7 linked regions of the Homo sapiens genome follow. The protein of the gene in region 1 purifies or fractionates together with the protein of each later gene. This does not show direct contact. Each region holds a gene or a part of one and is shown in the gene's direction. Other genes may lie near its edges.

The links.
Region 2: the proteins of SLC22A2 (region 1) and PDK1 purify together in Homo sapiens (affinity purification with mass spectrometry; one large-scale study listed by BioGRID and IntAct). This does not show direct contact.
Region 3: the proteins of SLC22A2 (region 1) and SLC15A4 purify together in Homo sapiens (affinity purification with mass spectrometry; one large-scale study listed by BioGRID and IntAct). This does not show direct contact.
Region 4: the proteins of SLC22A2 (region 1) and ENPEP purify together in Homo sapiens (affinity purification with mass spectrometry; one large-scale study listed by BioGRID and IntAct). This does not show direct contact.
Region 5: the proteins of SLC22A2 (region 1) and TMEM63B purify together in Homo sapiens (affinity purification with mass spectrometry; one large-scale study listed by BioGRID and IntAct). This does not show direct contact.
Region 6: the proteins of SLC22A2 (region 1) and ABCB8 purify together in Homo sapiens (affinity purification with mass spectrometry; one large-scale study listed by BioGRID and IntAct). This does not show direct contact.
Region 7: the proteins of SLC22A2 (region 1) and PTDSS2 purify together in Homo sapiens (affinity purification with mass spectrometry; one large-scale study listed by BioGRID and IntAct). This does not show direct contact.

The regions. Positions count from the first base shown.
Region 1 is NC_000006.12:160,256,022-160,260,052, reverse strand, and holds the start of SLC22A2 (solute carrier family 22 member 2), read left to right. Parts: upstream 1-1,231; 5' UTR 1,232-1,295; coding exon 1,296-1,709; intron 1,710-3,335; coding exon 3,336-3,439; intron 3,440-4,031. UniProt on the Homo sapiens protein: Electrogenic voltage-dependent transporter that mediates the transport of a variety of organic cations such as endogenous bioactive amines, cationic drugs and xenobiotics. Functions as a Na(+)-independent, bidirectional uniporter.
Region 2 is NC_000002.12:172,562,590-172,566,089, forward strand, and holds part of PDK1 ([Pyruvate dehydrogenase (acetyl-transferring)] kinase isozyme 1, mitochondrial isoform 2 precursor), read left to right. Parts: intron 1-151; coding exon of another isoform or gene 152-211; intron 212-1,521; exon of another isoform or gene 1,522-1,541; intron 1,542-1,913; coding exon 1,914-2,098; intron 2,099-2,388; coding exon 2,389-2,484; intron 2,485-3,500. UniProt on the Homo sapiens protein: Kinase that plays a key role in regulation of glucose and fatty acid metabolism and homeostasis via phosphorylation of the pyruvate dehydrogenase subunits PDHA1 and PDHA2.
Region 3 is NC_000012.12:128,813,959-128,817,458, reverse strand, and holds part of SLC15A4 (solute carrier family 15 member 4), read left to right. Parts: exon of another isoform or gene 1-2,081; intron 2,082-2,388; coding exon 2,389-2,684; intron 2,685-3,500. UniProt on the Homo sapiens protein: Proton-coupled amino-acid transporter that mediates the transmembrane transport of L-histidine and some di- and tripeptides from inside the lysosome to the cytosol, and plays a key role in innate immune response.
Region 4 is NC_000004.12:110,507,155-110,510,654, forward strand, and holds part of ENPEP (glutamyl aminopeptidase), read left to right. Parts: intron 1-2,498; coding exon 2,499-2,653; intron 2,654-3,090; coding exon 3,091-3,204; intron 3,205-3,500. UniProt on the Homo sapiens protein: Regulates central hypertension through its calcium-modulated preference to cleave N-terminal acidic residues from peptides such as angiotensin II.
Region 5 is NC_000006.12:44,153,787-44,156,019, forward strand, and holds the end of TMEM63B (mechanosensitive cation channel TMEM63B), read left to right. Parts: coding exon 1-57; exon of another isoform or gene 58-191; intron 192-286; coding exon 287-402; intron 403-578; coding exon 579-659; intron 660-905; coding exon 906-1,097; 3' UTR 1,098-1,733; downstream 1,734-2,233. UniProt on the Homo sapiens protein: Mechanosensitive cation channel with low conductance and high activation threshold. Osmosensitive cation channel preferentially activated by hypotonic stress.
Region 6 is NC_000007.14:151,031,450-151,034,949, forward strand, and holds part of ABCB8 (mitochondrial potassium channel ATP-binding subunit), read left to right. Parts: intron 1-2,155; coding exon 2,156-2,468; intron 2,469-2,823; coding exon 2,824-2,979; intron 2,980-3,055; coding exon 3,056-3,150; intron 3,151-3,274; coding exon 3,275-3,380; intron 3,381-3,500. UniProt on the Homo sapiens protein: ATP-binding subunit of the mitochondrial ATP-gated potassium channel (mitoK(ATP)). Together with pore-forming subunit CCDC51/MITOK of the mitoK(ATP) channel, mediates ATP-dependent potassium currents across the mitochondrial inner membrane.
Region 7 is NC_000011.10:484,779-488,278, forward strand, and holds part of PTDSS2 (phosphatidylserine synthase 2), read left to right. Parts: intron 1-2,112; coding exon of another isoform or gene 2,113-2,160; coding exon 2,161-2,295; intron 2,296-2,641; coding exon 2,642-2,692; intron 2,693-3,420; coding exon 3,421-3,500. UniProt on the Homo sapiens protein: Catalyzes a base-exchange reaction in which the polar head group of phosphatidylethanolamine (PE) or phosphatidylcholine (PC) is replaced by L-serine. Catalyzes the conversion of phosphatatidylethanolamine and does not act on phosphatidylcholine.

The DNA.
Region 1 (4,031 bases):
TTACATGACACAGGAGCCTTCATTCAGAATGAAGACCCACAGATACAGGGAAAACTGGATGGCAGTATAGAACTGTAGTTGGACAAAAAGGGCAGCAGCCCATGTTCGCAGGCTGAGGGGAAAACCCAGCAAGGCCTGTCTGTTCAGATCCGTCTTGGCCCCTCTGTGCAGCACTCCTTCCTCCAGGCACCGGGGACAAGACTCCTCTGGAATGCGGGTCTGGATTTCTTTACGGCCCACTGTTACACAGAAAGGCAGCGGGGAAGTTACAGTGGTATTTCTAGGCTTTCTGGCTGGCTTTGGGGAGAAAAGAGTCTGGTTTCCACGAGCTGCTTTGAGGAAGAAGGATTCTCAGTTCTATGGCTTGCCCCGGGGGAGAATGATGGGTGAGAGAAGAGACAGGAGGGCAGGAGAAGGTCAGAGAGAGAGACTTTGCTTCTGAGGCCTCCACCTTGGGGCATGGATTTCTGAGCCCCAACAGACCTTGACAGAAAAATCTAGGACACAAAGATAGTGGCTTGGACACACCTGCCTGCATTTACACTTGACCTGTCTGCGACGTAAACACTTTCCTCTTTCCCTCCAGATGGGTTAAGGGGAAGGACACTTCAGGGTTGAAACGCAGGAATACCAGATTGGAGCAAACACTTTTTAAAAGCAGAGTTATAAAATCTGGACAACATCAAAACAAGCAGCCCCAGCATGCATCCCGACGGCTCTTGTTGTTGGTTGGAGAATGAGCCCAGCAGTCAGGCTTGCAACCCACTTCGAATCTGGACCAGGGTTCTGACACGGATCCTGGTTCACATCACGCTGGGCCTTGTGGCCAAACACGTGTGTTTTCTCCATAGGGCCTTGAAGAAAAGCTGGCGGTGCGCATGAGATAGGAGTATATTAAGTTCCTGGCTGCTCGGGGCACTACGGGAAGATTACTGGGCTGTGATATGGGCCAGCACTCAGATTCCCTGCGGTGGGACACAGAGGGCGGGTTGTTTGTGCTGCTGGCGTGGAGCACCGACAAGCCTGTGGAGAACCAGTTATAATAAACACGACAGGCATCCTGGGAGTGAGCTCAGGGCATTTGGGAAGTGCAGAAGGACATGCACCCCCGCTGGAGGGGTGCACCTTTGAAGTCAGCTGGACCAAGGAAAGGCCCTGCCCTGAAGGCTGGTCACTTGCAGAGGTAAACTCCCCTCTTTGACTTCTGGCCAGGGTTTGTGCTGAGCTGGCTGCAGCCGCTCTCAGCCTCGCTCCGGGCACGTCGGGCAGCCTCGGGCCCTCCTGCCTGCAGGATCATGCCCACCACCGTGGACGATGTCCTGGAGCATGGAGGGGAGTTTCACTTTTTCCAGAAGCAAATGTTTTTCCTCTTGGCTCTGCTCTCGGCTACCTTCGCGCCCATCTACGTGGGCATCGTCTTCCTGGGCTTCACCCCTGACCACCGCTGCCGGAGCCCCGGAGTGGCCGAGCTGAGTCTGCGCTGCGGCTGGAGTCCTGCAGAGGAACTGAACTACACGGTGCCGGGCCCAGGACCTGCGGGCGAAGCCTCCCCAAGACAGTGTAGGCGCTACGAGGTGGACTGGAACCAGAGCACCTTCGACTGCGTGGACCCCCTGGCCAGCCTGGACACCAACAGGAGCCGCCTGCCACTGGGCCCCTGCCGGGACGGCTGGGTGTACGAGACGCCTGGCTCGTCCATCGTCACCGAGGTAAGAGAGTGAGCTCAGGGCTCAGATGGAGAAGCAAATGGTGGAGATTTTCTCAAGGAAGCAAGCAGGGAAGGCCCGGCTCTTATAAACCCTGCCTGGACATCTCTTTGGCCTGCATGTATCTTACAAAATCCTAGTTTCCAAATGAGAACATGCAGCTTCTAATTTGTCTGGAGAATAACTGGATTAGTTAAAACGTCCTCAGATGCTGACAATAATGATTCTAGTTTGTGCATGTCCCAGCAATAAGGAACAGGCCAAAGCATATTAGGACTCCTGGAAATGTTGCCAAGATAGGGATATTGTGGATCCTCCTCTTTTTCTGGAAGCCTTACCTCCCCCTCTATTCCTCCATCCCGCAGATGCCCACACACACCTGAAAGCCCGTGGAACTCAACTGAACTGTGCCTGACTGTGTGATAGGATGTGCTTTTCTCTCGATACCTATTTTTTCTCTTTAATTTCCTCAAAGTGTTCATATAAAATCATTTGGGGCTGGAGATCATGCTATGGCACTATTATTTTGTTAAAAACTACAGATGACATCAAAAGCTATTTGTGAAGCCTGATTCCAATAAATATAATAGAAAAAAAGACAAAAAATGGAGCTTGCTTTTATTGAAAGCAAAGCAAAATAGGGGAATTAAGTTACCTGAAAATACTGAGAGAGCCAGTTGCCTAGTTTAATTTAAAATGACTGCTTGGACAATGGGAAGATATTCTGTGTGAACAGATGGGTAGGTAGAGTCTAATTTGAAGGGTCTAAAGTGGTCAGATATTTACAGGAAATGTGGCAGCTCATGGGCTTCACACCACAAACTCTCCGAGGCTCTCTCACATGGCCAATCTCATTGCTTCCTACAGAGATGAGGAAACTGAGGCCCCAAGCAGAGAAGGTTTTTCCCCAGGCCACACAGTGAATAACTTAGCAGGGTTAGCCCTAAAAGATGGGTCTCCTGACCTGGTCCAGCACCTGCTCCACCCGACCACCTCCTCTTATTCCAAATAAGAGCAAATGCAGCAGCCTTCAGCAGTCACTCCTAATCCCCTTTTATTAAACAGACAGCAGGGAGATGCTAAATGGCCCAACCTCCTGGTGCCTGCATTGTATCACGTCCACACACCTATCTGCATGTGCATTGAAATTAGAAAGGAAAAAATAAATTTGTCTATAAGTAATTACCCAGTTTCAGCTGATTTAGCCAATGCTGTAGTTTTAGCTTCATGACAAATTGCCAGATGGAAGGGCAAGCCTTTTGGTTATGTAAAGAAAACTGAGGCTGGGCACAGTGGCTCACGCCTATAATGCCAGCATTTTGGGAGGCTGAGGTGTGAGGATCACATGAGCCCAGGAGGTCGAGGCTGCAGTGAGCCATGATCACCACTGTACTCCAGCCTGGGTGACAGAGCAAGACCCTGTCTCACAAAAAAAAAAAAAAAAGAGAGAGAGAGAGAAGAAGAAGAAAATTGGCATGATCAAGAAACAATGGCTTATTGCCACTTAACTATACAGTTCAATTCAAGGAATATTTAATGAGTACCCTAGCTGAGTTATGTCCAACAGGATTCTAACAGGATTTCATTTCCTTTCTCTCCCAACTTGGAACACTTCTCCCCTGCTGGCAGTTTAACCTGGTATGTGCCAACTCCTGGATGTTGGACCTATTCCAGTCATCAGTGAATGTAGGATTCTTTATTGGCTCTATGAGTATCGGCTACATAGCAGACAGGTAGGTTGAATCACCTGTGGTGGAATTTAAACAATCCCAAAGGTTTGGAGAACACTTGGATGCACCTGCCCCTGCTTGAATCCCATCCTTTCCCAAGCACACAGACCACAATCTCCTGGCCTTCATGCTGGTGTTTTTACAATCTTAAATTTCTTCTGCTGCTTGGATAACCATGACCAATGTCTTTATTTTCAAATTCTCTGGGGTCATAGACAGATATTTCAACATTACACAGCAAATCTTCCATGGGGGCTATGCAGAAGCTTCAAGTCGGAAGGGAGAGTAACAGATGATCTCATCCCTTTTGTAATTCCCAATTCATTTTTTGGCCTCATCACCATCCACCTGGCCATCAGCCTTCAGGGCCTCTGAGCTCAATCCTATCCTCTGCTTGTCTCGCATATGCTGGGAGCCCCCAGCACCAGGCCCAATGTAGAATCTCCCTAATACCCGTGGGATTGCAAGAGTCCTGAATTGGGTTCCTGGGGCCATATATGACCATATATGTGGAAGCCATAACTTAAAGAAAGGGAAACAGGGTCTGCCTACAACACGAGGGGTAAATGTCCACCTCTGCAATATCATTGTCCCT
Region 2 (3,500 bases), on another chromosome or scaffold:
AGCCCCAGCTGATCTTTGCCATATGAAAATACTGCCCATATCATCTGATTGTTTTCTGATTTTAAAGGAAAGCTACAAGTCTAGATTTGTAATGTAAAATCTCTCACTTTTGAAAGATTGGTAACTAATTAAAACATTTTTTAAAACACAGAAGGCCTAGAAGAACATGGTTGCAGGTCTCTAGTTTATGCTGTATGGCCTGCAAGATGATGTAAGTAATATGACAATGTTAATAACCCATATACCAGAATTGGTAAACCAAAGTATTTGCCTTATGCAGCTACCTGCTTATTGCAGTGAAGGGTACTGAGAGTGTAATGACCATCTCTTGTCCTCAGTTAGTTACACATGTTTTTTGGACTGTCTTTAAAGTGAACAGTAACACTTCATTTTTTTAAACATGATTTTAATCTGAAAATAACTTCAGCAAGAGTTTACTCCTTGCTTAGGTATTGAGCAGACTTTACATGAATGATGTTTTTTAATCTTTAAAACAATTCATTGAAATAATGCTGTTTGTGCACAAAGAGGGTAAGTAGTTTAAGGTTACATAGTTAGCAAATGGTAGAATCCAAGCAGTCTTACTTTAAAAGTAAACATTATGTTATAGAGCCTTCTGAAAACAGTCATTCAGAGCTGTGGAAAATAAGTAGTCAAGCAGAATAATACAGATTTGTGTTTCTTTGAAGCAGAAAGAAAATAATAAAGGAGTGACTAGAATGATGAGTTGTTTGTTGTTTTTGAAGAGTTTTGTTGTTTGTATTTTAGTTTAACAGTCTTGTTTTGAAGCGCATTACTAACTAGGAATTCCAAAAATGTTTTAAGCAGTGGAAACATCATTGGAATAAGTTAATAGTACTCAGGATGATGACTTTGAATAGGAAAGCACTCATTTGGAAGTGTAAATTCAGATGGGTTATGTTAGAAAATTGGTTTCGTTACTGCATAATTAAGACTTCTTGGGCCGGGCACGGTGGCTCACGCCTGTAATCCCAGCACTTTGGGAGGCCGAGGCGGGCGGATCGTCTGAGGTCGGGAGTTCGAGACCAGCCTGACCAACATGGAGAAACCCTGTCTCTACTAAAAATACAAAATTAGCCAGGCATCATGGTACATGCCTATAATCCCGGCTACTCAGGAAGGCTGAGGCAGTAGAATCACTTGAACTCGGGAGGTGGAGGTTGCAGTGAGCCGAGATTGCGCCATTGCTCTCCAGCCTGGGCAACAAGAGCAAAATTCCATCTCAAAAAAAAAAAAGACTTATTTTCTCTTTTATTTAGTTATTTAACCATGCAGTGTCTTCTAAGTGACAGAGATGGGAAGACTAGATGATTTGAAGATTTGTCTTTTAATATAATTGTTTACTTTTCCTCTCCCATTTTATAAACTCATAGGATGAGTGAAATGAGAATTCTTTTCTGTTTTTCTGTCCTAAGTGTTTCCTTCTCTCTTTGAACCCTAGGGAATAGGTCCAAAACAGGCAGGCTTTATTGGCTCATTCATCTTGATTCCTTGCAGAGCAGAGCAGGTGTTCTCTAGAGGCAAGTGCTTTGTCTCCTCCTATGCAGAATGTCTCTGGAATACCATCCTCTTAGCCAGTGCTCAGATGACCTTAGTTGATAACAGTTAAAACCATTAACATTTTTTGGATTACGTTTTGTGGCAGCCTTACTCTTAGGAAGCCAAGAAAAGAATTAAATCTTGAAAGTTTTATTTTGGAGGTCTGTATACTTTCATAGATTTGGTATATTTTATGATCTGAAATACATTTAAATAAGTATAGGAAAACATGAACCGATTTTCCTTTTATTAAATTGGGGATTTTTTGTCTAGCATAGTTGGTTAAGCTTATATTTTTGTATTAAGTTTACTTGTCAAAATATTTGGCTGTTTTGACAGATGGGTTTGTTTAGCTTTACAGATACTGTGATACGGATCAGAAACCGACACAATGATGTCATTCCCACAATGGCCCAGGGTGTGATTGAATACAAGGAGAGCTTTGGGGTGGATCCTGTCACCAGCCAGAATGTTCAGTACTTTTTGGATCGATTCTACATGAGTCGCATTTCAATTAGAATGTTACTCAATCAGCACTGTAAGTGTCCCTCATGAGTCAAGAGAAGAAGCTAAATGAGATGTGTTGGCATATTTTAAATTTATTTAGGAAAGTTCCATTTAGGTAGGAAATTTAGTTTTACCTTTTGGCTAATTAAGAAAAATAAATAGACTGCCATCAAGAAAGGTGTTTTTATTGAATGTAAAATACTATGTTTATCCTAAAGGAAAATATTTGTTCTGTTTGGTACAATTTAAACAGTATTCAGATTTGGAAAAGAGCATTAGGTGGTTTAGCTTATTTTGTTGGTTTTTTTCCTTTTTGGATAGCTTTATTGTTTGGTGGAAAAGGCAAAGGAAGTCCATCTCATCGAAAACACATTGGAAGCATAAATCCAAACTGCAATGTACTTGAAGTTATTAAAGGTAAATACTGACATTTCTCCTTGCAAAAAAAGATACAAAAATCAAAATTATTGTTATTTCTTACTATTAAAACATCTATTTGTATCATGAGATAAAATGGTAGGCACAAATGCATGGGTTTGAAAATAACCTTATAGTATTATTTGTGCATTATGTATAGGATGACTATTTTATTGATAGAATTATTTGTTAGGCAAAGTTTGGTGATACTATAGAGGATATCTTTTTTGTTTTGTTTTGTTTTGTTTGAGACAGAGTCTCACTCTGTTGCCCAGGCTGGAGTGCAGTGGTGTGATCTCAGCTCACTGCAGCCTCTGCCTCCTGAGTTCAAGCGATTGTCTTGCCTCAGCCTCCCCAGTAGCCGGGATTACAGATGCTCAACACTACGCCTGGCTAATTTTTGTATCTTTAGTGCAGGCAGGGTTTTACCATGTTGGCCAGGCTGGTCTGGAACTCCTGCCTGCCTGCCTGCCTGCCTCGGCCTCCCAAAGAGCTGGGATTACAGGCGTGAGCCACCGAGCCCAGCTGAGGGTATCTTTCACTTAAAAAAGAATTGAAGTCCCTACTGCCCTGTTTCTAATTCTTACACTATGAGCAGTAATTCATAACAATTTGGTTTGAATCATTTCACACTTTTTTCTATTTATACCACTTGTACACATACACAATTGATGTTGGTCTTACATTGTTGTTTTTAGAAAATGGGGTGCTCTATGTTTTTTTCTACAAGTTTACAGACATCTTGCTGTTCAGTACATCTGGATATGCTCCAAGGTTTTGAATGGCTCTATGGAATGTATCAGTATGTGTTAATTAATTCTCCTGTTCATGCACACTTAGGTTGTTTTAATTTTTTTCTGTTACCACCAATACCAGCAGTACTGCTGTGAACATCCTTAAATACACGCTCACTTTTGCTAGTATTTTAGAGGTGAGATTCCTAGAATTAAAAACATTTAAATGCATATAAAATTTTGGTATCTCCAAAAAGGTTTCAAACAATGGATAAGAGTGTT
Region 3 (3,500 bases), on another chromosome or scaffold:
TAAGTTTATATACTATGTTTACTGGCCTCTTTTATGCTTGTCAAAAAATTACTTTTTGTTTGTTATTTTTTCGCACTTCTAGTTTTGTTTTCTCAGTAACCATTTCTCTGCTCACATTTTTCATTTTTCTTCCTGGTCCATGTCTAGTATAGCATGAGAATTGGTGTCCACTGTTGAGCAATATTTAAATGCATTGTGTCCTAGTGAAGAAGTGTCTTAGATGTCTGTGAAGTTCTCACCTCAAACTCTTTATTCAGTAGAGATGTCTGCATTTGGTCTAGGACCTCTGTTCAGTATTGTAATAGATAAGAGAAAAGTTTAAACTCTTGAGAATAAGTGATTTTCTTTTAAATTTAGATTTTTCGTTTGAAGTGGTGTTACTATATATAATTAATTACCTGCCACCATAGTGGCCATGCTTAATCATTTGGACTTCAAACAAATCTCTTTTTGAGGAGCACACAATTTTTTTTCTTTTGCTCTATTTCCTTTAGAGAGGAACACACAATTTTAACTATAAATTTTACTCCTCTGATTTAATCTTTAAAAAATAGAGTTTAAAATACCATATCAAATATATGACTGCTAAAAAGATGCATGTGCTTATTACATACCATATCTTTTTTTTTCTTTTGAGACAGGGCCTCTGTCGCTTAGGCAGGAGTGCAGTGGTGCCATCACAGCTCACTGCCACCTCCTCCCCAGTTCAAGGGATCCTCCCACCTCAGTCTCGCAGGTAGCTGGGACTGTAGGCGCACACCACCGCACCTGGCTGATGTTTGTAATTTTTTGTAGAGATGGGGGTCTGTCTGTGTTCCCAGGCTGCTCTCAAACTCCTAGACCCAAGCGGTCTGCCTGCCCTGGCTTCCCAAAGTGCTGGGATTCCAGACCTGAGCCACCATGCCCAACCGTAATTGGTTGTTTTGGCCCCATTGAGAATGTGTTATTCAGTAGAGCAGATTGTTCTATGGATCCAGAAACTAGATCTATTATTAGAATAAGAATTTTCTAACTCTTTCATAACCTGTGACTTAAGAATGAGACAGTAGAAGTTTTTAAGACAGCAAGAGAGTCTTTTTATGAGATCCAGTATCAGCCTCTCATAAGTTTGTTAAAAATAAATTTATGAAATGAAACTCACTAGAAATGTCTCTGTCTAGTACAGGGTTCATTTGCACAGTATCTTATTTAGACGTAAAAATCCAGGTGGGCAGAGAAGGCTTCTGGTGTGTCTGCCCCCAAATGACCTGTTCCCACCGCTTGGGCTCCATTGAAGTAGCCTCGTGAACTCCATAAGCCTAGATGTTGCGTTATTACCTCAGTGCTTTTGTTTGAGTCCAGGAAGTCAGTGATTTTTGAGCCTTTTGGAAATCCCACCCTTATCAGAATTTCTCCGATTCCATTGATAGCCTGTCTAATCTAAAAATAGCATGTGGTTTTATCTTTAGTCTATAATTTCCTCTTTGCTTCAAGTTTACTGAGATCTCTGATTCTCAGGAGACCAGATACAATTGGTGTGGGTGGTGACTTGGCCTCACTGAACAAATGTCTCTCTTTGGGGCCTAAGCATATTTGTGGGGTGCCTCATGGTACTTGCATGTAGCTCAGTAAGGCATGGAGCTTTATAACATTGGTTCTAAAACTTACCTGTGAGTAGAAGTCACCTGGGAAGTTGCTTGAAATGCAGATTCCTGGGCCTGGGCCCCAGAGACCGTGATTCAGTAGGTCTGGAGCGTGGGTCCTGTGACTGTGTTTGTTTTTTGTTTGTTTGTTTGTTTGAGATGGAGTTTCACTCTTGTCAACCAGGTACAGTGGCACAGTCTCGGTTCACTGCAACCTCCATGTCCTGGATTCAAGCGATTCTCCTGCCTCAGCCTCCCAAGTAGCTGGGATTACAGGTGCCCACCACCATGCCTGGCTAATTTTTGTATTTTTAGTAGAGACGGTGTTTCACCATGTTGGCCAGGCTGGTCTCGAACTCCATACCTCAAGTGATCCACACGCCTCAGCCTCCCAAAGTGCTAGGATTATAGGCGTGAGCCACCATGCCCAGCGGACTCTGTTTTTAAAGAGCATTCCAGGTAATTCCAAGGCAAGTGGTTCAGGTACTTAGAAAATTCTACAGCAGAATATACTTGGAAAAACTCTCTAGCATTTGTTGGAATTTAGTGTAATTAAGTGAAACCTACCTAGCAACTGTAGTAATTAAAAGCGTGGGGTGTGCTTTTTGTTGAGATCCGTGAATGTTTCTGTAAACACAATTTTGATTGTGTTGCGCTTCTTAAAGGTTGTGATGACAACGGTAATTTTAACCACTTGACCGTATATGGTTTTCATCCTTGAAGACTGTCATATATTTTCAAGTGTCTTTCCTCCCTGTTATTTTAGGTTAAAGATCGAGGTCCGGAAGCCACTAGGAGATTTTTTAATTGGTTTTATTGGAGCATTAACCTGGGAGCGATCCTGTCGTTAGGTGGCATTGCCTATATTCAGCAGAACGTCAGCTTTGTCACTGGTTATGCGATCCCCACTGTCTGCGTCGGCCTTGCTTTTGTGGTCTTCCTCTGTGGCCAGAGCGTTTTCATCACCAAGCCTCCTGATGGCAGTGCCTTCACCGACATGTTCAAGATACTGACGTATTCCTGCTGTTCCCAGAAGCGAAGTGGAGAGCGCCAGAGTAATGGGTAAGCACTTAGTTCTCATCTTGGGCTGTTTGAAAGGACTTTATCGATCTCTTTATTAACATCCTAGCTTCGGTTTGTTGTGTGCTTATTGTGTGCTGGGCCTGGGCTGAGTGGTTTACATGTCTTCTCTCCTTTAACACTGCATTTCCCCAAGGAGGCGGGTGCGGTCTTATTATCCCATCTTAAAGACAGGCCAGTGGCCTGATTCCAGAGCTCATGCTTTAACCCCACGTTGCACTTTCTCTCACTGCTAGTGTAGACGGAAGCTCCTTTGGTGCCAGATTATAAAGGTAGAAATTTGTGGAGGACATCGAGGAGACAGAAGACATGCTTTATACATGTTTCTTTTTATTTTAAAAAGCTTTGAAATACATTTGAATGAAAAACTAAGCAGTTGCTTATGCTGTCAGTACCTGTCTCTGCTCTTTAAAAAGTAAGCCACTGCCTCTTACCTAAAGGTCAGCATGGGCTCCATCATACAGCGGTCAGGTCCATCATACGGCGGTCAGGTCCATCATACAGCGGTCAGGTCCATCATACGGCGGTCAGGTCCATCATACGGCGGTCAGGTCCATCATACGGCGGTCAGGTCTGTAACTCTTGACAGGAAGGTGCAGTAGCAGAATGGCGAGATGCACTGAGGGTAACCAGATGATCTCATGGGACTTACCCAGTGTTAGCACCAAAGTCCCATGAACTGAGGTGTTAAAACAGAAAGGCCTGTGTCCTCAGAACCCCTCCAAGTCACTGGCCAACTATGACTCATGTTTGGTGATGTTGGATGCCAGTTAATAAAGTCCAGAACTTAAGCCCAAG
Region 4 (3,500 bases), on another chromosome or scaffold:
GGATAAATGATGTTGTAAGAGCCCCATGTGCTTCCAGTCTTTCCATTGTTGTACAAGGCAAATTCTAGATTCCCCAGCAGTTTAATGAAATACTGGTGCTCCTTCCAGCAATAATTTTTTCTAATACAGAGGGAGACATGCATTCTTCATAAAGCAAAAGTGGGGCTACAACCAAAATGGTGTGCATATGACATTTCTATCAATAGTGGAAATGCTTTATTAATAAGCTCGAGAGCTATTAACAAAGACTTTAAATATAACACCCATATAGATGTTTGTAGGGATGAAATGAAGGCAGTAAGAAAACAAATTAGCCAACAGTTGGCCTCCCTGTATCTGTTTCTGCCTTTACTTTAATAACTTATCAATGCACACAAGGGGAATGCAAAATTCTCTGCATGGGAATGGCTGTGGCTCAGAGCAAGCTTGTAGATGCTGCATGTCTCTTCAATGGATACAATTCTATTTTTTGATTGCTTAACAAATGTTAGAGAAGGAGCTGGAAAAAGAAACAAGTTTTCATCAAAATCAGAATATTGGGCCAGGTGCAGTGGCTCACGCCTGTAATCCCAACATTTTGGGAGGCCCAGGCGGGCGGATCGCTTGAGCCCAGAGGTTCAAGACCAGCCTGGCAACATGGTGAAACCCCATCGCTACAAGAAATACAAAAATTAGCCAGGTGTTGTGGCACACACCTGTAGTCTCAGCTACTCAGGAGGCTGAGGTGGGAGGATCACTTGAGCCCAGGAGGTTGAGGCTGCAGTGAGCCATGATTGTGTCACTGCAGTCTAGGTGACAGAAGACCTCATCTCAATTTAAAAATATCAGAATAATATTTAATAAAATATTGTACACATGAATTTAAAGATCCTTTGCCTTTTATCTCAGTTGTAGCACCCAGGATAACCTGAGAAGTGGAAATCTCACAAATTTATTACTCTCTTCTCCTCTCTTTCTTTCTCCCTCTCCCCAACTCCTTTATTCTGTTTTATGTGCATTTTCAACCCTCTCAGAATTAATTATATCTTAGACTCCTTAGAGGTGACTTCTGCATTTATTAGACTCCAAAGAGTTAAATATACAAGAATTAGTTAGTTACAATGCCAGTACTGACCAAAAAAAAAAAAAAAAAAATGAGATTGCAAAAAATTCCTTTTGTTCAAGGATTAAGTGCAAACTGCACTCCACAACATTATGAAAAATATTGGCCCTTGGGGGAGATACTTCTCTACTTTTGAAATGACTGTCTTGTGATAAAATAACCAAACCTAAAAATGAGATAACATGAAAAGGAAACTACTATTGTAATCTTGACCTCTACTTAAGATACATCCCTCTTCATTCTTTTATAAAAAGCTCTAAGAATATTTATTTTGGCTGGGTGCGGTGGCTCACGCCTGTAATCCCAGCACTTTGGGAGGCCGAGGCGGGTGGATCACGAGGTCAGGAGATGGAGACCATCCTGGCTAACACGGTGAATCCCCGTCTCTACTAAAAATTCAAAAAATTAGCCAGGCGCGGTGGCGGGCGCCTGTAGTCCCAGCTACTCAGGAGGCCGAGGCTGGAGAATGGCGTGAACCCAGGAGGCAGAGCTTGCAGTGAGCCGAGATCGCACCACTGCCCTCCAGTTTGGGCAACAGAGCGAGACTCTGTCTCAAAAAAAAAGAAAGAATATTTATTTTAACCAGAAAGAAAGGGCCTTCTCTTATATGTTAAGTGAAAAATCAATTTGTTTTCATTTCTGTGCCTCATTTAAATTATACATAATAATAAAGAAATTACATTCTGTTTACAGTTCATTAACTGGGGAAGCTGTATTTTGGCCACTAATCATCTGAGCATTTTCTGTCTTGGGATTTAACATAGAACTGATCAACACTGCCTCCTCCTGTCAGATATTATGTGTAAGACTATAGAAACTCCTGTCCAACATTTTAGAACTGTAAGGGAATCTAGAGAGAATATAGTCAACTCCATGTTTCTCCAACCAATTTAATACATAAAAGCGGATGATAAGCTATTAGATTGGTATTTCTATCAATATTTTATAGAATTAGAGAAAAATGGAGTTTTATATTCTTGAATAATCTGTGTCTTTGGATGGAAAACTGTATCTATACACTTGGAAGCTCAGAACTTCTAAATACTAATTTGAAAACTTCTCTTTTTCCTCACGGCTTATCCCCTAAAACACATGTAGCTAATAAAAATGAAATACAGAGAGAAACAAAAGACATAAAATTATAGAGGCATTGCCATTAGTGTCCTTCTTTAAAACAAAAACAAAGCATTGATATCTGGAGCCAGCAGGGAATGCTCTATGGAAACTTTGAGTGCATTAGGACTGAAATGTTCGCACACATGATTACAGTTCTTTACTCTAAGAAATTATTTTTAGGCTTTTAAAAAACATTCATCCAAATAACTTAATTTGGTAAGAAAAGCTATGAACAAATGGAAAGAATGTATTTCTCACTGGACTCTTTCTTCTTCTATAGATAAAATCGCTATTCCAGATTTTGGCACTGGTGCCATGGAGAACTGGGGACTCATCACGTACAGAGAAACGAACCTGCTTTATGACCCTAAGGAATCAGCCTCATCAAACCAACAGAGGGTGGCCACTGTGGTTGCCCATGAACTTGTGCATCAGGTACAGAATCTTAGCACTGAATCAGCTTGTTTTTTTAAAGTGGCTTAAGACCACAGGAATAATTCAAATTATTTATGACTTAGCAAATAAAAAATAGCCAACTCAGAAAAACTTGCATGAAAATCTTTCTTGGTACTAATAAACATTTAGCCATAAAGAGACTTTGAACCACATTGTTTTGCCTTTAGGAAATATGCACGAGGCCTTCATATAAATTTATGTACCCCAGTAATAACTAAATAAAGGCAATAAACTAAAGACAATTTAATATCATTTAAATAATCAGAATAAAGCAGGAAATAAATGTTAAGTACAATGCCTGCCACTTCTGTCACAGTGACAACATTGGCACGGACAAATAAATGTTTTGACATTTTCTAGGCCTCTCTACCATACCCATAAGAATGTAATTATCTCTTTATTGCTTATAATTTCAGTGGTTTGGAAATATTGTGACCATGGACTGGTGGGAAGACTTGTGGCTAAATGAAGGATTTGCTTCTTTCTTTGAGTTTCTGGGAGTAAACCATGCAGAAACAGACTGGCAAATGGTGAGTCCTAAACACATAAACTTGAAATCTCTCTTTTCCTCATGCAAAGCAGATGGAAGCCTTTGGACTATGATAATGGTCCCGAGTCAGATGGCAAGTACAGTGGTGAGCGGGGAATTCCACTGTGAGGATAGGGTGGAGCCAGCTGACTTCCACTGACTACACCTTGCCCCAGTACCTAGAAGGGCAGCTGATCATCACAATCTGGGGATATCCTTGACAGAGTCACTCAAAACACATTATCAAGGCAGGAAAAAAAAAAAAAAAACAGGTGGCATAGAAAATGTTAACTCTGT
Region 5 (2,233 bases), about 120 Mb from region 1:
TGGCCGCGCCCATCCTCTGCCTCTTCTGGCTGCTCTTCTTTTCCACCATGCGCACGGGTGAGGGATCCCTACCCAGGGAACGGGGGGTGGCGAGCAGAGTGGATTCCAGCCAGAGCAGGCCACAGGAGAAGCCGCATGGCTGGGGGTGGCAGGCAAGGGGCCTGGGAGAGGCTGGGGCCAGTCTGTAGCACCTGGGAGAGTGAGGACTGCATTCAGAGGGTATCAGAAGCTGGGGTGGGGAGGCCCACAGGAGATAGCAACCCCATTCTTTGCCCCCCAACACCAGGGTTCCTAGCTCCCACGTCTATGTTCACATTTGTGGTCCTGGTCATCACCATCGTCATCTGTCTCTGCCACGTCTGCTTTGGACACTTCAAATACCTCAGTGCCCACAACTACAAGGTGTGGGGCAAGGGTGGCAGGCGGATGGCTGCGGGCAGGAGCTCAAGGGGAGGAATGCAGAGGGCCACAGGGCTGGCGAGGGCTGAGGGCAGCGCCAACAGGGCCAAGCGGGCGTGGGGTCATGATCAGGGCTGAGGACATGCCCCCACTTCCTGACTCATTCTGGGCCCCTCAAGATTGAGCACACGGAGACAGATACTGTGGACCCCAGAAGCAATGGACGGCCCCCCACTGCTGCTGCTGTCCCCAAATCTGCGGTGAGTGCCCTCAAGGGTTGGGAGGGGCCTCTGACAGACTCAGCCTCAAAGCCCAGTGTTCCCTTAGTCCTGCAGAAAGGGGAACCTGTGCCAGACCCCATGGGGGCGGGAAGAGAGCTGGTCTCCCTGGAGGGCTGCCCCCGCCCCCCAGGGCCCTGCCCACTCTGCTGTCCTACATGCCCTGGTGTTCCCGCAATCCATGAGGGGCAGCTGTTCACCTTGCCCCCATTTCCTCTCCTCCTTCAGAAATACATCGCTCAGGTGCTGCAGGACTCAGAGGTGGACGGGGATGGGGATGGGGCTCCTGGGAGCTCAGGGGATGAGCCCCCATCATCCTCATCCCAAGATGAGGAGTTGCTGATGCCACCCGACGCCCTCACGGACACAGACTTCCAGTCTTGCGAGGACAGCCTCATAGAGAATGAGATTCACCAGTAAGGGGAGGGAGGGGCCCTGGAGGCCACATCCTGCCCCACCCCACCCCCACTCCCACGGACACTAAAACGCTAATAATTTATTAGATCTAAAGCCCCTTCCTCCCCAGCCCCTGCTTTCATTAAGGTATTTAAACTTGGGGGTTTCACTGCTCTCCCCCATGATGGAGGGAGGGAGCCCCCCAACCTCAGTGAGGAGAGCCCCGAGCCGGCCCCGGGGCAAAGAGGGGTGCAGAGGGAGTTCCCCCAGATCAGTACCCCCCACCCCTCCCCAGCTAGTAGCATGACCAGGAGAGGGTTAATGAGAGCCAAGAGGAGTACCTGGTGCACCTGGTGCCGGTGGCTGGAGACCTGGGGGGCAGGTGGATCTGGGGCTGTTCCCCCCCCTCCGTTTTTTCCACCCCACAGTTCCTCCTGGGATCTGGCCCTCCAGGGAAGTGGAGCCTCCAGCCCCTAGGGGATGCATGAGGGGGGAGGGGGTGCTGAGTGGGAGGAAGAGTCAGGCTCACAGCTGGGGTGGCCTGGGGGTGGGGGTGGGCAAGGCTGACACTGGAAAATGGGTTTTTGCACTGTTTTTTTTTTGGTTTTTTTGTTCTTTTTTGTTTTTTTCCTTTAAAATAAAAACAAAGAAAAGCTCTGAGGCAGGTGTCTGACTTGTGCTGCCCTGGGCACCTGGGCCGGGTCCCCACCCTCCTATCTGGAGGGCCTCTTTGAGGTCCCTGCATGACGCTGGGCAAGGGACTTGTTCAGAGTCTCATTTCTGTGTCACTGAGAGGAGAGAGTGGGGCTGGGGAGAGACTTAAGGGATATCTCAGAGGCAGGAAGGGCCCCTGTGCCCAGGTGGCCACCATACCAGCCTCGCCCACTCTGATCATTCCCCTGAGTCCCTGAGCAACACACATGGGACAGAGATTCAGGGAGAAAAGGTCGTGCAAAGCCACAGGGTCCATGCTGGGCCAGGACGAAGGCCCTTCTGAGCACCTCAAAGTAAGCCTGGCGCCAGCCCATCTGTCCCTTCCCCAGGAGGGCCTGATCTCCTCAATGAGAAGCCCCCTCCCACCCTCCAGTCAAATCTTACCCATTCTCCAAGACCCAGCTCAAATTCACCTTCTCGCCAGGCGCGGTGGCTCACGCCTGTAA
Region 6 (3,500 bases), on another chromosome or scaffold:
GGGTCTAGGGATGTGAAAGGCCATGATGGTAAAGAGAAAAGCTCACACTACTCTTTTTTTAAACCTTTCCCCATCAGTAAGCTTATCTAGATCTTCTAGATCTCACCATCCTCTCCTGGCTGGATAACTTCTGCTCCCTACAACCAGTCCTGTCTGCCTCCAGCCCATGCCCCTCTGCTATGATCTTTTTTTTTTTTTTCAAGACAGAGTCTTGCTCTGTTGTCCAGGCTGGAGTACGGTAGCACGATCTTGGCTCGCTGTGACCTCCTCCTCCCAGGTTCAAGTGATTCTCTGCCTCAGCCTCCCAAGTAGCTGGGACCACAGGCACACACCACCACATCCAGCTAATTTTTAGTAGAGACAAGGTTTCAACATGTTGATCTAGAACTCCTGGCCTCAAATGATCCACCCGCCTCAGCCTCCCAAAGTGTTGGGATTACAGGCGTGAGCCACTGCGCCCGGCCATGCTACGATCTTTAAAATGAAAACCTAATCTTGGCACATCTCGGCCTAAAAATCACCATGACCCTTATTGCCCCCCAAGTCCAGGAGCTTTATAAGAACTAGAAAACTGCCCCTCCCGCAAGTCTCATGTCTCTTTTCCCTTCTTGTAGGTCAGGCTTCAGCCATACAATTCCTGAAATTTCTCTCCCATCCTTTCTTACTGGAGATACCTGCACTTGCTTTTCCTCTGCCTAGAGCTCTCCCCTTTACACTCCACCCCCACCTGTGCCTGGCCTGTTCCCCCTCACAGGTTCCCCCTTACCTAGAAGGCCTTTCCTGACTCCCTCTGAGGAGAAGGAGGAGCAGGGCTTCAAGCTGTTTTGTGCCTCTGATTTCCAGTTAACTGTGAGTCTCCCGCACTCAAGCATGACTGCTGTGAGGGGAGTTACTTCAGCTGTCATGTAACTCCATAACTCCGAGCAGAGCACCTGCACACAGTAGGTTCAAAATGTGTAGAATAGGCCAGGCACGGTGGCTCATACCTGGAATCCCAGCACTTTGGGAGGCTGAGGCAGGTGGATCATGAGGTCAGGAGTTCAAGACCAGCCTGGCCAATAAAGCGAAACCCCATCTCTACTAAAAATACAAAAATTAGCTGGGCGTGGTGGCTCGTGCCTGTAGTCCCAGCTGCTCAGGAGGCTGAGGCAGGAGAATCTCTTGAACCCGGGAGGCAGAGGTTGCAGTGAGCCGAGATTGTGCCGCTTCACTCCAGCCGGGGTGACGGAGCGAGACTCTGTCTCAAAAAAAAAAAAAACACAATGTCTAGAATAGTGGAATCGATGTTAGCATTTTATAGATGTGGCAGCTGAAGGAAAGAGAAGGTAATTGTCCTATTCAAGATGACAAGATAAGTTATTAGAATTCTTATTTTTCTCTGTTTCCTCCTTCAGCTGTGGAGAGGGAGTGTGTGTCATGGCGCCCCAGGCCAGGGAGGGGAGGTAGGGTAATGGGCCTGGGACATCAGAAGACATGGCACACTGGCAGAGTAGAGCCAGCCTGGGTGCTGGAGTCAGACTGCAGACTTGGTTCCCTGCTCGTCCCAGTTCTGCTGCCTGCGGACAAGTTATTTCAGCTCTCTTAGCTCCACATGATTTTTTTCATCTGTCAGGTGAGAATAATGGCACCTCCCTCCCAGGGAGGTGAGGATCAAGGGAAGTAGCCCATTAGCTCCAGGAGGTGGGGCTGTGTCTGCCCTGGTGGCTGCTGTGAGCAAGTCCAGTGCCGGGCACAGGAGCAGCTCTCTTTCCTCACCTCTCTGCACCGTGGTCCCTTAAACCCCCGGCCCCTTCCTGTCCAGGCAGTGTGTGGCCATCTAACGTGCCATCCAGTTCTTCAGGCTGTCATTCTGTCAGAGCCTGGAGTCGAGGCTGCGAGGGCCCTGGCTGGCTGGGTGTTGCCTGAGAGTTGCCCAGGGGAATAAGACTTTTAAGACTAGATTTTGTGCTCAGTGCCTCATTCCTCTGCGACTTTGCCCATGGACATGTCTTAGAAACTGAAGTTGCTTCAGAACAGCCCTGAGAAGGGCAGGGGCAAGGGCCTGACAGAAGAGGAAGTGCTCCTTCCAGAGGGCTCAGCCAGAGCCCCATGGGTGTGCTGGTCAGCAGGAGGGCAGTCGGAGCCTCAAGCCATCCATGCCTCTCTCTCCTTACAGGTACTCTGATGGCTACCGCAGCTCCTCCCTCCTCCGGGCCGTGGCCCACCTGCGGTCCCAGCTCTGGGCCCACCTCCCTCGAGCCCCCCTAGCTCCCAGATGGAGCCCCTCTGCCTGGTGCTGGGTTGGGGGAGCCCTGCTAGGCCCCATGGTACTGAGTAAGCATCCCCACCTCTGCCTTGTGGCCCTGTGTGAGGCAGAAGAGGCCCCTCCTGCCAGCTCCACACCCCATGTCGTGGGGTCTCGCTTTAACTGGAAGCTCTTCTGGCAGTTTCTGCACCCCCACCTGCTGGTCCTGGGGGTAGCCGTCGTGGTGAGGCTTTCCCCACTTCTCCATCCTGGGGACAGGGCAGGACCCAGAGCTGCAAAGGGATGGCATTCCTGCCTCGCTGCCTCTCAGGGGAGAGCTCAGGGGAGCAGCAAGGGCTAGCCAGGGGTCCAGGGGTGCCAGGAGCATCAACACTGGGTGGCTGGGTGGGCAGGGTTCCGTGGGGACTGGAAGCCAGGGTTTGAACCTCTGAGAGGCACTGATGTGTCCACATGACCAGCCACAACCTGGACAAGCGCAGTGCTCAGTAGTGGGAGAGGAAGGGCCAAGATCTGGCTGGGGATGGGGAGGAGTGGCTCCCCCACTTAAAACATTTGTGCCCTCTGTCTCCCCATTCCAGCTGGCCTTGGGTGCGGCACTCGTGAATGTACAGATCCCCCTGCTCCTGGGCCAGCTGGTAGAGGTCGTGGCCAAGTACACAAGGGACCACGTAGGGAGTTTCATGACTGAGTCCCAGAATCTCAGCACCCACCTGCTTATCCTCTATGGTGTCCAGGTACAGCCGGGAGTGGGGCTGGGGACCGCCGAGGAGCCACCCGAGGCATCCCTGAGTGCACTGGGCTCTTTCGCAGGGACTGCTGACCTTCGGGTACCTGGTGCTGCTGTCCCACGTTGGCGAGCGCATGGCTGTGGACATGCGGAGGGCCCTCTTCAGCTCCCTGCTCCGGTACTGCCAGCCGCAGGGTGCAGAGTTGGGGTGACTGATGGCCTGAGGGGTCTGGGGGTAGGACCTTATCCTGAAGTAATGTCTCCCTCTTCTGCCCTCCTTATTGGTTCTTGTCCCATGCCAGACAAGACATCACCTTCTTTGACGCCAATAAGACAGGGCAGCTGGTGAGCCGCTTGACAACTGACGTGCAGGAGTTTAAGTCATCCTTCAAGCTTGTCATCTCCCAGGTCAGTGGCCCAGTGGCCCCCACCACGTCCACACACACACTTTCCCATGTGGATTCACCAGGCCAGCCCTGCCCGCCCCAGCCCTGATGTTGGGCTGACAGGCGCATGCTGACTCGAGAA
Region 7 (3,500 bases), on another chromosome or scaffold:
TGTGCGCAGGCGAGTGTAAACTGCACGGGCGCGTGTGCTCACCGTGTGCGCAGGCGAGTGTAAACAGTGCACGGGTGCGTGTGCTCACTGTGCGCAGGCGTCTGTAAACAGTGCACGGGCGTGTGTGTGCTCACTGCGCAGGCGAGTGTAAACTGCACGGGCGCGTGTGTGCTCACTGTGTGCGCAGGCGAGCGTAAACTGCACGGGCACGTGTGCTCACTGCGCAGGCGAGCGTAAACAGTGCACGGGCGCGTGTGTGCTCACTGTGTGCGCAGGCGAGTGTAAACTGCACGGGCACGTGTGCTTACTGTGCACAGGCGAGTGTAAACAGTGCACGGGCGCGTGTGCTCACTGTGTGCGCAGGCGAGTGTAAGTGCACGGGCGTGTGTGCTCACTGCGCAGGCGAGTGTAAACTGCACAGGCGCGTGTGTGCTCACTGTGCGCAGGCGAGTGTAAACTGCACGGGCGCGTGTGTGCTCACTGCGCAGGCGAGTTTAAACAGTGCACGGGCGCGTGTGTGCTCACTGTGTGCGCAGGCGAGTGTAAGTGCACGAGCGCGTGTGTGCTCACTGCGCAGGCGTCTGTAAACAGTGCATGGGCATGTGTGCTGTGTGTGTGCAGGCGACCGTAAACAGTGCACGGACGCGTGTGTGCTCACCGTGTGCGCAGGCGAGTGTAAACAGTGCACGGGTGTGTGTGCTCACTGTGCAGGCGAGTGTAAACTGCACAGGCGCGTGTGCTCACCGTGTGCGCAGGCGAGTGTAAACAGTGCACGGGCGCGTGTGCTCACCGTGTGCGCAGGCGTGTAAACTGCACGGGCGCGTGTGCTCACTGCGCAGGCGAGTGTAAACAGTGCACGGGCGCGTGTGTGCTCACTGTGCGCAGGCGAGTTTAAACAGCGCACGGGCGCGTGTGTGCTCACTGCGCAGGCGAGTGTAAACTGCACGGGCGCGTGTGCTCACTGCGCAGGCGAGCGTAAACAGTGCACGGGCGCGCGTGTGCTCACCGTGCGCGCAGGCGAGCGTAAACAGTGCACGGGCGCGCGTGTGCTCACCGTGCGCGCAGGCGAGCGTAAACAGTGCACGGGCGCGCGTGTGCTCACCGTGCGCGCAGGCGAGCGTAAACAGTGCACGGGCGCGCGTGTGCTCACCGTGCGCGCAGGCGAGCGTAAACAGTGCACGGGCGCGCGTGTGCTCACCGTGCGCGCAGGCGAGCGTAAGCAGTGCACGGGCGCGCGTGCTCACCGTGTGCGCAGGCGAGTGTAAACAGTGCACGGGCGTGTGTGTTCACCGTGTGCGCAGGCGAGTGTAAACACAGCTGGTGCCCTGGTGCGTGTGTGCTGTGAGCACAGGTGTCTGTAAATGATGTAAACCTCCCTTGACGTCAGGCCCAAAAGCCTGCCTTGCCCTAAGGTCAAGAGGTGTATCTGGCTGATGCCAGCGTCTGGGTGAGGAAAGAGCAGGTTCCACAAGGGCGACTCCTGTGAGGGTGTTGGCCTGAGCGCGCATGCGGGGAGGGGTCGGGGTGGGGGCGGCGCGCCGCAGTAACTCAGGGCCCCATCCCGCTCCCGTCTGTCCAGCGGTCCTAGACCCCCATGTCCTGAAGCGCACCTGTGCCCACCTGGCCCCGGGGAGCGCAGGTGTGGAGATGGGGTGTCGTGCCTGGGGGTTCCTTCCCCACGCGCTGCCCCACCAGGATTTCCCTGGGGTGGGGAGGGCTGCTGAGACAGGGCGCTGCCCTCCTCCAGGGTGACTGAGATGCAGTTTACAACCATGATCTCCTGGCCGGGCGTGGTGGCTCACGGCTGTAATCCCAGCTCTTTGGGAGGCCGAAGTGGGCGGATCACGAGGTCAGGAGATCAAGACCATCCTGGCTAGCACGGTGAAACCCCGTCTCTACTAAAAATACAAAAAAAAAATACTAGCCGGGCGTGGTGGCGGGCGCCTGTAGTCCCAGCTACTCGGGAGGCTGAGGCAGGAGAATGGCGTGAACCCAGGAGGCGGAGCTTGCAGTGAGCCCAGTTCACGCCACTGCATTCCAGCCTGGGCGACAGAGCGAGACTCCATCTCAAAAAAATAAAATAAATAAACAACCATGATCTCCCGTTTCAAGTTGCCACCACTAACTGTAGCCCCGCTGACGGGGGCACTGGCCTTGCAGACTGTCCAGGACGGCCGGCAGTTTCTAAAGTATGTTGACCCCAAGCTGGGAGTCCCACTGCCAGAGAGAGACTACGGGGGAAACTGCCTCATCTACGACCCAGACAATGAGACTGACCCCTTTCACAACATCTGGGTAAGACGCCGGGGGCCCTGAGGCGAGCCCCTCCCCAGGTGTGGCCCCGTGCCGGACCAGGCGCCATCCACGCTCCTGCCTCGCACCCCTCAGCCCACACTTGGGGTCTCCTGGTGCAGAGATGTGCTGAGGCCCTGTCCGTCTGGATGGTGCTCATGGTGGGCAGGGGGCCCCTGCTCTCTAGGCTGTCGTGGACGTGGTCTCCACAGGCCACGGCAGCACCTGTGAGTCCCTGGCCTTCTTCCCGGGGTCTGGCAGGTGCTGCTCAGGTGTGGGCTGATCTGCCGGTGTGGGGAGTGGGGGTGGCTGTGCCCCAGGGTCAAGGGTCATACCCTGTCGCCCACAGGACAAGTTGGATGGCTTTGTTCCCGCGCACTTTCTTGGCTGGTACCTGAAGGTACGGCACCTCCTCTTCCCGGCCTCCCCGCCCCGGTTCTGAGGCCTGCCGTGGGCTCTGGACCGTTTCTGTCCATGGAGTTGAGCTCAGGGTGCTCTGAGTGTGGTGGGAGGGTGTCGCACTGCAGCCACCCAGAGGTTCGAGAAGCCGTGGGGCTCCCGGACCTCCCAGAAGCCCTGATCCTGGTCGGGTCCCCGCTCCGTCCTCAGGGTCGGGGCGGTGGAAAGAGGCGGCAGGGCAGGAAGTCCCGCCCCTGCCTGGGCTTGGGCACTGCCCCATCCCACTTCTGAGGGACCCTGTGCTACCTATGGGGCTAAGAGCAGTGCCTGCTTGACCCTGCAGCCCACCCTGGCAGAGTTTGGTGTCAGGCCCCGGGCACGGGGATGCTGCCTTGTTTGCTGACAGTCGTACATCGAGGCTGCTGGAGGGGCAGCCACCCACCCCACGCTCACCCTGAGACCTCACTGGGGGCCCTGCCAGTGCTGTCGACTCCAAGAATGCTGCCAGCCGGGGTGGGGGCTGCACGCACCCGTGGGCAGGGCCGGGCGTGGCCTGCGTCCCATACTCTGGCTGCCAGCCGGGTGGGGGCTGCACGCACCCGTGGGCAGGGCCGGGCGTGGCCGGCGTCCCATACTCTGGCTGCCAGCCGGGGTGGGGGCTGCACGCACCCGTGGGCAGGGCCGGGTGTGGCCGGCGTCCCATACTCTGGCTGACCCTGGCGCCCACAGACCCTGATGATCCGAGACTGGTGGATGTGCATGATCATCAGCGTGATGTTCGAGTTCCTGGAGTACAGCCTGGAGCACCA